2 separate regions of the Homo sapiens genome follow, and region 1 is linked to region 2. The links come from fine-mapping of genetic effects on gene expression. A gene starts in region 2. The other region holds a variant in brackets. All regions are shown on one strand. Distances are from middle to middle.

The links. PIP is the estimated chance that this variant, and not a neighbour inherited with it, causes the effect.
Region 1: its variant is the best candidate, but not a certain one, in a credible set for the expression of AKAP3 in thyroid (GTEx, PIP 0.53).

What each region holds. Positions count from the first base shown.
Region 1 is chr12:4,620,875-4,625,874 of GRCh38, forward strand. All of the region lies in intron 5 of AKAP3 (A-kinase anchoring protein 3), which reads right to left. Among named protein-coding and RNA genes, the nearest start is that of AKAP3, 26 kb to the right of the region's middle. The variant T/C (reference allele first, on the strand shown) is at 2,614.
Region 2 is chr12:4,647,109-4,652,108 of GRCh38, forward strand. AKAP3 (A-kinase anchoring protein 3) reads right to left here and starts at 1,943. Exons shown (of 6, transcript NM_001278309.2): 1 at 1,637-1,943. It overlaps NDUFA9 (NADH:ubiquinone oxidoreductase subunit A9), which reads left to right and starts at 2,006. Exons shown (of 11, transcript NM_005002.5): 1 at 2,006-2,067. The coding sequence starts at 2,019. RefSeq lists enhancers at 1,368-1,417, 1,698-1,907, 1,776-2,431.

The DNA of each region.
Region 1 (5,000 bases), 26 kb before region 2:
TGGTATTATTTTAGTCTACTCCTTCTACTTATTAAAAAAATTAATTGTAAAACAGCCTCAGGCAGGTCCTTCAGGACAAAGGCATTGTCATCATAGGACATAATAGCTCCATGAGTGTTACTTACCCTGAAGACCTTCTAATGGGAGAACATGCAGAGGTGGAAGGCAATGGTATTGATGATCCTGACCCTGTGTGGGCCTAGGTCAATATGTGTGTTTGTATCTTCATTTTTAATAAAAAATAAAAAAATTAAATAGAAAAAAGCTTATAAAAAAGAATATAAAGAAAATATTTTTGTATAACTGTACAACGTGTTTTAAGCTGTTATTACAAAAGAGCCAAAAAGTTAAAAAAAATCAAAACTTTGTAACATAAAAATGTTACAGTAAGCTGCTAATTTATTATTGAAGAAAGAAAAATATTTTAAAATATTTATTGTAGCCTAAATATACAGTTTTTATGAAGTCTACAGTAGTGAACAGTAATGTCCTAGGCCTTCGCATTCACTCACCACTCAGTCACTCACTCATCCAGAGCAACTTCTAGTCCTGTGAGCTCCATTCATGGTAAGTGACCTATACAGATGTACCATTTTTTATCTTTCAAACCATATTTTTACTGTACCTTTTCTATATTTAGATATGTTTAGATCCACACATACTGTGGTGTTATAATTGCTTACAGTATTCAGTACAGTAACATGCTGTATATAAGTGTGTAGCCTAGGAGCAATAGGCTATACAATATAAGCTAGATATGTAGTAGGCTATACCAGCTAGGTTTGTGTAAGTACCGTCTATTATGTTCACACAATGAGGAAATCGCTTAATGACACACTTCTCAGAGCATATCCCCATGACTAAGCAATGCATGAGTGGACTAGAAAAAAACATGGGAAAGTTTTGCTAATATCGTAAAGTGGAGAATGTTTTCCAAAATATAACATAAAACCCAGCAAAAATAAAAGAAAAATGTCTCATATTTGATGACATTTGTATGGCAGAAACAAACTACAACAACAACAACAACAAAACACCAATCAAAGGACCAATGGCAAAGGAAACATTTGTATTTAATATCATAAAGGTTGATTCCTTGTAATATATAAAACTCTTATAGATCAATAAGAAAAAGGCCTACAATGCAATAAGAAAATGGGCAGAACATAAAAAGAATACCTAGGAATACAGCTAACTAGGGAGGTGAAAATCTCTACAATGAGAATTACAAAACACTGCTCGAAGAAATCGGAAATGACACAAACAAATGGAAAAATATTCCATTCTCATGGATAGAAAGAGTCAATATTGTTAAAATGGTCATATTGCCCAAAGCAACTTAAATGTTCAATGCTATTCCTATTAAACTACCAATGAAATTCTTCATAGAACTAGAAAAAACTATTTTAAAATTCATATGGAACCAAAAAAGAGCCTGCCAACAGCCAAGGCACTCCTAGGTGAAAAGAACAAAGCTAGAGGCATCACATTACTCAACTTCAAACTATACTCCAGGACCACAGTAACCAAAACAGCATGGTACTGGTACAAAAACAGACATACAGACCAATGGAACAGAATAGAGAGCCCAAAAATAAGGCCACACAGCTACAACCATCTGATCTTTGACAAAGCTGACAAAAACAAGCAATGGGGAAGGATTCCCTAATTCAATAGGTGCTGGGATAACTGGCTAGCCATATACAGAAGATTGAAACTGGACCCCTTCCTTACACCATATACAAAAATCAACTCAACATGGATTAAAGAGTTAAATGTAAGATTAAAAACTGTAAAAACCCTAGAAGAACACCTAGACAATACCATTCTGGACATAGGAACCGGCAAAGATTTCATGATGAATACACCAAAAGCAACTGCAACAAGAGCAAAGCTTGACAAATGGGATCTAATTAAATTTAAGAGCTTCTGCACATCAATAGAAACTATTAATAGAGTAAACAGACAACCTACATAATGGAAGGAAATATTTGCAAACTATGCATCTGACAAAGGTCTAATGTTCAGCTATAAGGAACTGAAACAAATTTGCAAGAAAAAAACAACCCCATTAAAAAGTGGGCAAAGGACACAAACAGACTCTTTGCAAAAGAAGACATACGTGTGGCCAACAAGCATATAAAAACAAGCTTAATATCACTGGTCACTAGATAAACGCAAATCCAAACCATAATGAGATACCATCTCACACCAGTTAGAATGGCTATTATTAAAAGTAATGGCAAGGATGTGGAGAAAAGGCAACACTTATACACTGTTGGTGGGAGTGTAAATTAGCTCAACCATTGTCAAAAGCAGTGTGGCAATTCCTCAAAGAGCTAAAAACAGAACTACTGTTCAACCCAGCAATCCCATTACTGGGTGTATATCCAAAGGAATATAAATTGTTTTACCATAAAGACACATGCACGTGGATGTTCACTGCAACACTATTCACAATAACAAAGACATGGAGATAACCTAAGTGCCCATCAATGGCAGATGGGATAAAGAAAATGTGGTACATATACACCATGGAATATTATGCAGTCATAAAAAAGAACACAGCCATTTCCTTTGCAGGAACATGGATGCAGTTGGAGGCCATTGCCA[T/C]TGGCAAATTAACTCAGGAACAGAAAATGAAATGCAGCGTGTTATCAGAAGTGGGAGTTAAATGATGAGAACACATGGACACAAAGAGGGAACAACAGACACTTGAGGGTGAAGGGTGGGAGGAAGAAGACACTCAGAAAAAAATAACTATTGGGTCAGTACTAGGCTTAGTACCTGGGTGACAAAATAAGCTGTACAACAAACCCGTGTGACATGAGTTTACCTATATAACAAACAAGCACATATACCCCTGAACCTAAAATAAGTTAAAAAAAGAAAAATGGGCAGAAGTTATGACAAATTAATCCACAGAAGAGGAAATTCAAATGGTCTTATATGCAAAGATACTCACCCTTATTCCTAATAAGACAAAAAGTAAAGCAACTTAGCAAATTAAAAATTTTAGCATGCACTGTTGGTTAAAGTGTGAGGAAATAGTCCTCTTACACTGTTTTAATAGGTGTGTTAATTGGTACAAGCTCTATGGAAGGCAATTTGGAAACATGTATCAAATTACACAAATAATATTCTCAGTGACCTTGAAGTTCCTTTCCTAGGTGTATAGCACATGTGAATACATTTGAATCTGTGCAAAATTATGTATATTCAAGGATATTCAGTGTAGCATTGCTTACAGTGCAGAATAGTGGCAACTGAAATATCCATACATAAGGGAGGGGTTAAATATATAAAACATATATAAAACATATATGATATATGAAATGGCTTCATATATTATAAAATATATAAAGCCATTAAAAAGAATGTGGCAACTCTATATGTTGCAGAAGAGGATATATATATAAAAAATAATAATTTGTGACTTTACGTGTGTGTGTGTGTGTGTGTGTGTGTGTGTGTGTGTGTGTGTGTGTGTATTGCTGGAAGGATAAATAAGAAATTGATCCAAACAATTTTTTTCTCCAGGGAAGGCAATGGGATGGAGCACACAAATGAGAAAACAACCCTTAATTTTCACCATGCATCCTTTTGTACTTTTGAATTTTGAACTATGCACACATATTATTTATTCAAAAATAAATACAAATGTATTTAAAGACATCGGGCTCACAGACATCCCAGTGACAGCAGGTTCAATCACCTGAATCAGTATGAGAATATTTGCATACATTAATCTCTTTTCAAAAAGTCATTTTTAGGTAGTTTCTTTGGTGTCTATGTCATCCCTGTTCTTAAAAATATACTAATATTCAGTGCGTCTATTTATTAGTTGAAGTTTGAACATGCTGCTTCTCATTCCTTCTACTCTTAGAGGGAGTCAATAAAATAGATGACTGGCTTTATCTTTAGAGTAGACAAAGGTGTGTGTGTGTGTGTATATAAAAGTGGGGGACTGCAAGTCTATTGTCCTATTTTAGATACATGTTTCAATTTAAAATAATCTAAAACAACACATTCCAATACAAAAAAAGTCTAAAGCCAGAATGTATTATGTATGTTATATATGAGGGGTTTGATTTCAAAGATGGCTACAAAAGGCTTTCTCACACATTACACACCTGAAAGCTATGCTTACTTTTAGATTTTTTTCATCAGTTTAAATTTTCTTCAGCATATAGCCTCCCACTCCCCACCTCTACTAATTGCTATATACTGTAAAATAGTTGTCTGTTTCACGGATTGGAAACCCTGCGTGGAGACAGAGCTTGCCAACGACCCTTAGGAATAGATCTAATATTGGAAGTTCACACTGTCTTCTAGCCTAACTTGAATGTGCACACAACTCACCTGGGTATTTTGCTAAGATGAAGATTCTGATTCAGTAGGTCTGGAGGGAAGTGTGAGATTCTGCACTTCTAAAAAGCTCCCAGGTGATGCCAATGTTGTAGGTCCACAGACTACACTTTAAGTAGCACGTGTAGTCTTTTTAAGACCAAAGTCAAAGACCATACAGTTTCTTGTTTAGGCTTGATATAGCCTAATCTGGATGCTCTGTAATCGTGTGTTTTCCCAGTCATCAGATAAATATAGCGACCCAGTTGCAAGCGTTGCTAATACCATGTAAATACCACTTAATTAAGCAGAGAAAGCCTGTTTTTCCTTATCTTCTGATTCCTATGATGATGAAATTTTCTAAATAATTCTAGCCTCTTGTGCCACCCTTTGCTACTTAATGATTAACAGCAGTTGGTCCACTTTTCTCAATCAAGAGGAGACAATCAAAAGCACTGAGGAAGAGAAAATGAGAGAGAGAGAGAGAGAGAGAGAGCAAGCGAGCGAGAAGGCAGAGAGGAGAGAGAAGAGAAGGTTGTAGGGATGGTCTTTTTAATTCCCGCACTTCAGTGTGAAGCATCTGGGGTAAGTGTGCGTGTTCTCCAGACTCAAACCCTCCCTTTGGCGCGCAGTTCTGATGCTTACTGGGCACC
Region 2 (5,000 bases):
GCTGAGCTCCTAAAATCTCTTCCAGCTCTAACATTCTATGATTTTGATACTTCAGTGGTATTTGAATAGTACTGCATGGACCTACATATAGCACTTTACGGGTGACAAAGCATCTTTGCATCCATTACGCCACCCGATTCTCATAATAACCTTTTGAGGTACCAGGGTAGGTTTTATTTACCCTGTTAGACAAGTGTAGAAACTTGTCCAGGTCACAGCTAACGAATGACAAAACTGGGGATGGGATCTAGTATTCTAGGTGTTAAAAATCGGTGTTCTTTCAGTTGGGCACAGTGACTCATGCCTGTAATCCCAGCACTTTTGGAGGCCAAGGTGAGAGGAGGTCTTGAGCCCAGGAATTTGAGACAAGCCTGGGCAATACAGTAAGACCCCATCTCTGAAAAAAAAAAAAGTCAGTGTTCTTTTAATTACACCATGCAACCTTGAAACTAGAACTGAGAACATGAGGCAGTGTTTAACTTAGAGATTTTAAATTATATAATTGGCAGTGTTATACAGGAGTAAGCAGGTTGCTGATGACAGTCAGGATCTGTTGATCCGAACAAGGAAAGTATGTTAGTATCCATATTGGTCCCAAAATCAAGTATTAGCAAATTGTGTTAAGTGAACATAGGATAAGGCCAAGAAATATGACAGTGTAGCGTTACTACTAAGCTTCTCCGATGAAATTCAAGGTTTTTTTCTCTCTTCCAATTCAATTTGTTAGGCGACACTTCAGTAAACAGTAGGGGCAAGATAGAGTGGAAACAGCCAAGATTTCAAGCCTAGTAATAAGCAACTTCTACATCCCTACTCATCACAGGCCTTTTTGTCTATCCCAGAAACACATACTTTTCCTGAAAAAACAAAGCACTGGAAGGATTACCAAGTCTAGAAAGAACCCGCCCTCCCCAAACTAGGTGGTTTTCTGATAAGCCTAAGGTATGTTTCACAGGATCACTGGTTGCCATCTCCTACCCAGCAATCTGGAGAGGTTGACCAGAATAAAGTATTTTAAAATCCAAGCGCTTAGTCTAACCTGGAATTTCCTCAGTTTCTAGATGGCTCTTTGTAGAACAATGCAGATTCTCAAAGGTGACCACAGTTAAAGAAAAAATTACAAGCCATTGCGCTAGAGAGAGCCATCTGCAGTTTCTCCTTAGACAGATGTTCAGATGGCACACATGGCCACTAAATTTGCATAATATTTCAGGAAGTTCACAGATTTCCCGAAGCCCACTCATGAATCACACTTCTGGTTAAGAACTCCTAGATTCATATGCTAGTTGGTGATAAGTGCTTTGGTATATAAACTTAAACCAAAAATTGGTGGAATAATTACCACCTTGGATAGGATGGTCAGAGAAGTTTTATCCGAAGAGGTCACTTTTGAGCAGAGACTTGAGCTGGTGCAGACACCTGAGTGTGCATTCCAGGAAACGCGAACAGCAGGCGCAAGGGTCCCTATGAGAGAATGTGCTTGGCGGGCTCGACGCACATTTATTTACTTGGGACACACCCTATTTTGGTTTCTCTTCTCCACTTTTCCCCTCGTTCTTGTCCCCCCTTTTCTCTCTCCTGGGCCCTGGATCTCCTGAGCGCGGAGGGCTACGCCTCCTTCTTCCTCCGGACTCACCAGGGCTGCCAGCTTAGCTTACATTTTCAGGGAACAGGAAACTGAGAGTCAGGAAAGGTGAGCTCTTCTACCTCGGGTCTTGCCATTTTGCATGTCCTGAGTCAGTCACTGGTTAACTCTGAACTTCAGGTTCCTCGGCAATTAGAGATTATAAATAGCCTATACAGCCTATTCCAGATCTGAGATTCCAACAGCCAAAGTCTTTTCACTTCCTTTCTTCCCCCTCTCCTTCACTTTCCCAGCTTTCTTCTTAACCAACAATCTACCCGAAACCGTCGTTTCTTGGTTAGCGCTTGCGCAGACAGGCGAGAAAGGTAAGTTTTGACCCAGCTTAGCAGCCGTAGTCAGCCGGGAGTGCTGTCGTGGGGGATTGTGGGAAAAGATGGCGGCTGCCGCACAATCCCGGGTTGTCCGGGTCCTGTCAATGTCACGTAAGTGTTACCGGGAACGGCGGCCCCTGGTCGGGATTCCGAGACGGGGATTTAAGGTTTTGGAAGTGGCACCGTGCTGCAGCGGTCACGCCAACTTCCTAGGCACACTCTGGTTTCTCTAGGTTTGGAGCTGCCTCAGTCTGGTTTCTCCTTTCGCTTTCCGCTTCCCCGGCTCACATATTCAATTGTGCACCACCTTGGGAGGGGACAAAAGATCTTAAGCAGCTGTAAGCGAAGAGGAGAATGCGGGGGACACGTTAGGGATCGAGAGAATCAGAATTCTGATATGGTTGTAAGGGTTTAGGGTTATGAGAAATATTTGTATGGGGCGGGGGGAGAAATGTGTAAGGGAGGGAAAAAAGGCTAGTGGCGAGAGGTTTTCTTAGATTGATTTTATGACCTTGTGCAAACCCTTAATGGGTCTCAATTCATATGAGCACAATGGAAATGATAATATTACAATACCAGGGAGTCTCTGATAAGATTAAATGAGCTAATATTTGTAAAAGCATCCTTTTACCCAAAAGCGTCTCTACGGATGTAGAATGTGTTCGGCAAAGTGCGTTGGGGTCTGGGGGAGAGAGTGATGTTTGAGGAGAGAAGAATCAGGAGCTTGGTGGAAAGGAAAGTGAAGAATGAAGGCTATGTTAGAATTTGTTAGCATTATTTAGTTTCTCTTCTGTTCTGATTGGATCTGCTCCCACTCCTCAAACTGAAAACATACATTTGTCCTTCCACTCACTAAAAAGCAAGGAAATTAGAAATACGGTTACACTTCATCATTGTCCTTTCACCCTCTACTCTTCCACAAACATATTCCAATCAAACCCCCAAAGTTGTATTTTTCTTAGTGTATTTTAGTCGTTACAGAATATCATTTGCTTTCAAAATTGGCTCATGTCAGAATCACTCGTAAAGCTTTATAAAAATTAGAAATGAGGACTGAGTGTAGAGCTATTGAGTCAGAATTTGTGAGATTAGCTCCTTGCACCTTAAATTTTTAAAAGCACCACAGATAGGCTTGATGTTCAGCCTGAGGCAAGAATTAGGAGTGTTTAGAGGATCCTTTTTTTTTTGTTTTCCATCTTGGGTAGAACTCCTGCATACCACTGGGAAGGTGGTGGTGCACATCACTTATAGTGGATGGTTTTGTAGTCACAATGTCTTTGCAAAGACATTTGCTGGTTCTTGTTAAACTATTACAATTGTATGACGTAATGTAGATTGTGAATGGTAATCACTATTTATTGAGTACCTGCTATCTGCAATCTCCAGTTCTAGGTATTTTTATTAATTTTCCTCTTTTAACTTACTTTCCTCTGACTGACACCATAGCTTGTGTTCTTAACCACTCTGCGTTATTGTCTGGTAAAGTAAGTTTTTGAGTAAATTCTGTAGAGGCAAGTCTAGTATGTAACATAATCCACACACTATAGGACAGAACTGTGTAAGACAACTATATATAGTTAAGTGTGGCAAGACTATTAAGTATCACAGGAAATCATAAAAGGGAAAGATTAGTATCATTTGAGGTACTGAGGGATGATTGGAAGACCAGTGGAGAATTGTAGTGCTCCCACTGGTCTCTTTAGGGCTGTTATGATCTGGAAAGTCCTCTGGCAAAGACAAGTGGGTGAGAATGGAGTCATGAGGTATTCAAGAGGCAGTGAAATGACTACCTGAATATCTGGGATAGTGGAAAAGGAGGTTGAATGTGTTAGATGGGATCAGACAATGGAGACCTTTGAAAGCCAAGCAGAGTTTAGATCGGTAGTCTCCAAAGGGAGTTGTGCAAGAGGACCTAATAAGTTGTGGAAATATAAATTAGAACTCCTAAAAATTGCTTTCTATAGTAATAATAGCTAACACTTATGTAGTTTAAACTGTATGCCACACACTATTCTAAGTAATGTATGATTTATAATGTGTATATCATATTGGTACTACATAGAACGTGCATATAATTTTTTAAATAAATACTTAAAAAAATTAATGCAGTGTGCAAGCAAATATGTCTGGACTATTGGTTTGGGTATTGCAGTAGGAAACTAATGTAGGTTTTTAAGCAGAGAAATATAATGAATATATAATTAATAAAGAATATCATTCTTCTAATAGTACTCATAATAAATGGAAGAAAGTGGAGAGGCTGGAACCAAAGAGAGTAATAATTTATATTTATTGAGCACCTAGTATTTGCAAGGCACTGTGACAGATGCTTGCCCATATGTTATTCTCATTAACCCTTTAAACTGTGAGCTTCATGAAGCCAGGGTTTTGTATTTTACTGTGATAGTCACAGTTTCTAGAATAATTCTTGGCCCATAATTATTAAAAAAAAACAATAGCCATGTGAGGTTAGTGTGACATTACCTTCTGAGAAATTTCAAAGTAATAAAAGCAACTATTATTCATAGAATGCTTAATGTGCTCTAGGTAATGTGCTACGTGGTTTATGTATGTTTAATCCTCTTAACAGTCCTTTGAGGTATTAATTCCTCAACTCAAGTAATTCTTCCCAGTTCATTGACTCTGCCATCTTTTGCCTGTCTTATCCTATGTCCTCATTTCCTTACTCTTCACTCTTATCATTCCCTTTTATGCATCCTCAACTCCCCAGCCCAACTCCCATTGTCGTAAAAAACATTGACCCTGATTAAACAAAACTTTCCACGTAATTTGCTGCCTGCCACTGAGCAATGGAGAACGGGGCTAGGGAAAACTTCAGACTAACTGGCCTTATTTTAAATTCATGAATACAAATCTCAAGTAGATTTTCAGTGCTACATTTTTCTAGGAAATTTGGTTTCCTTGTCTCCATAATCATTACTTAACATAGCGAGTTTCCTAAAACCTCTAACATGTGCTTTTGTCTCATTCTCAGCTTTACAGAGAAATCAAAGGAATCAGATGAGAACAGTCATTTTCCCACC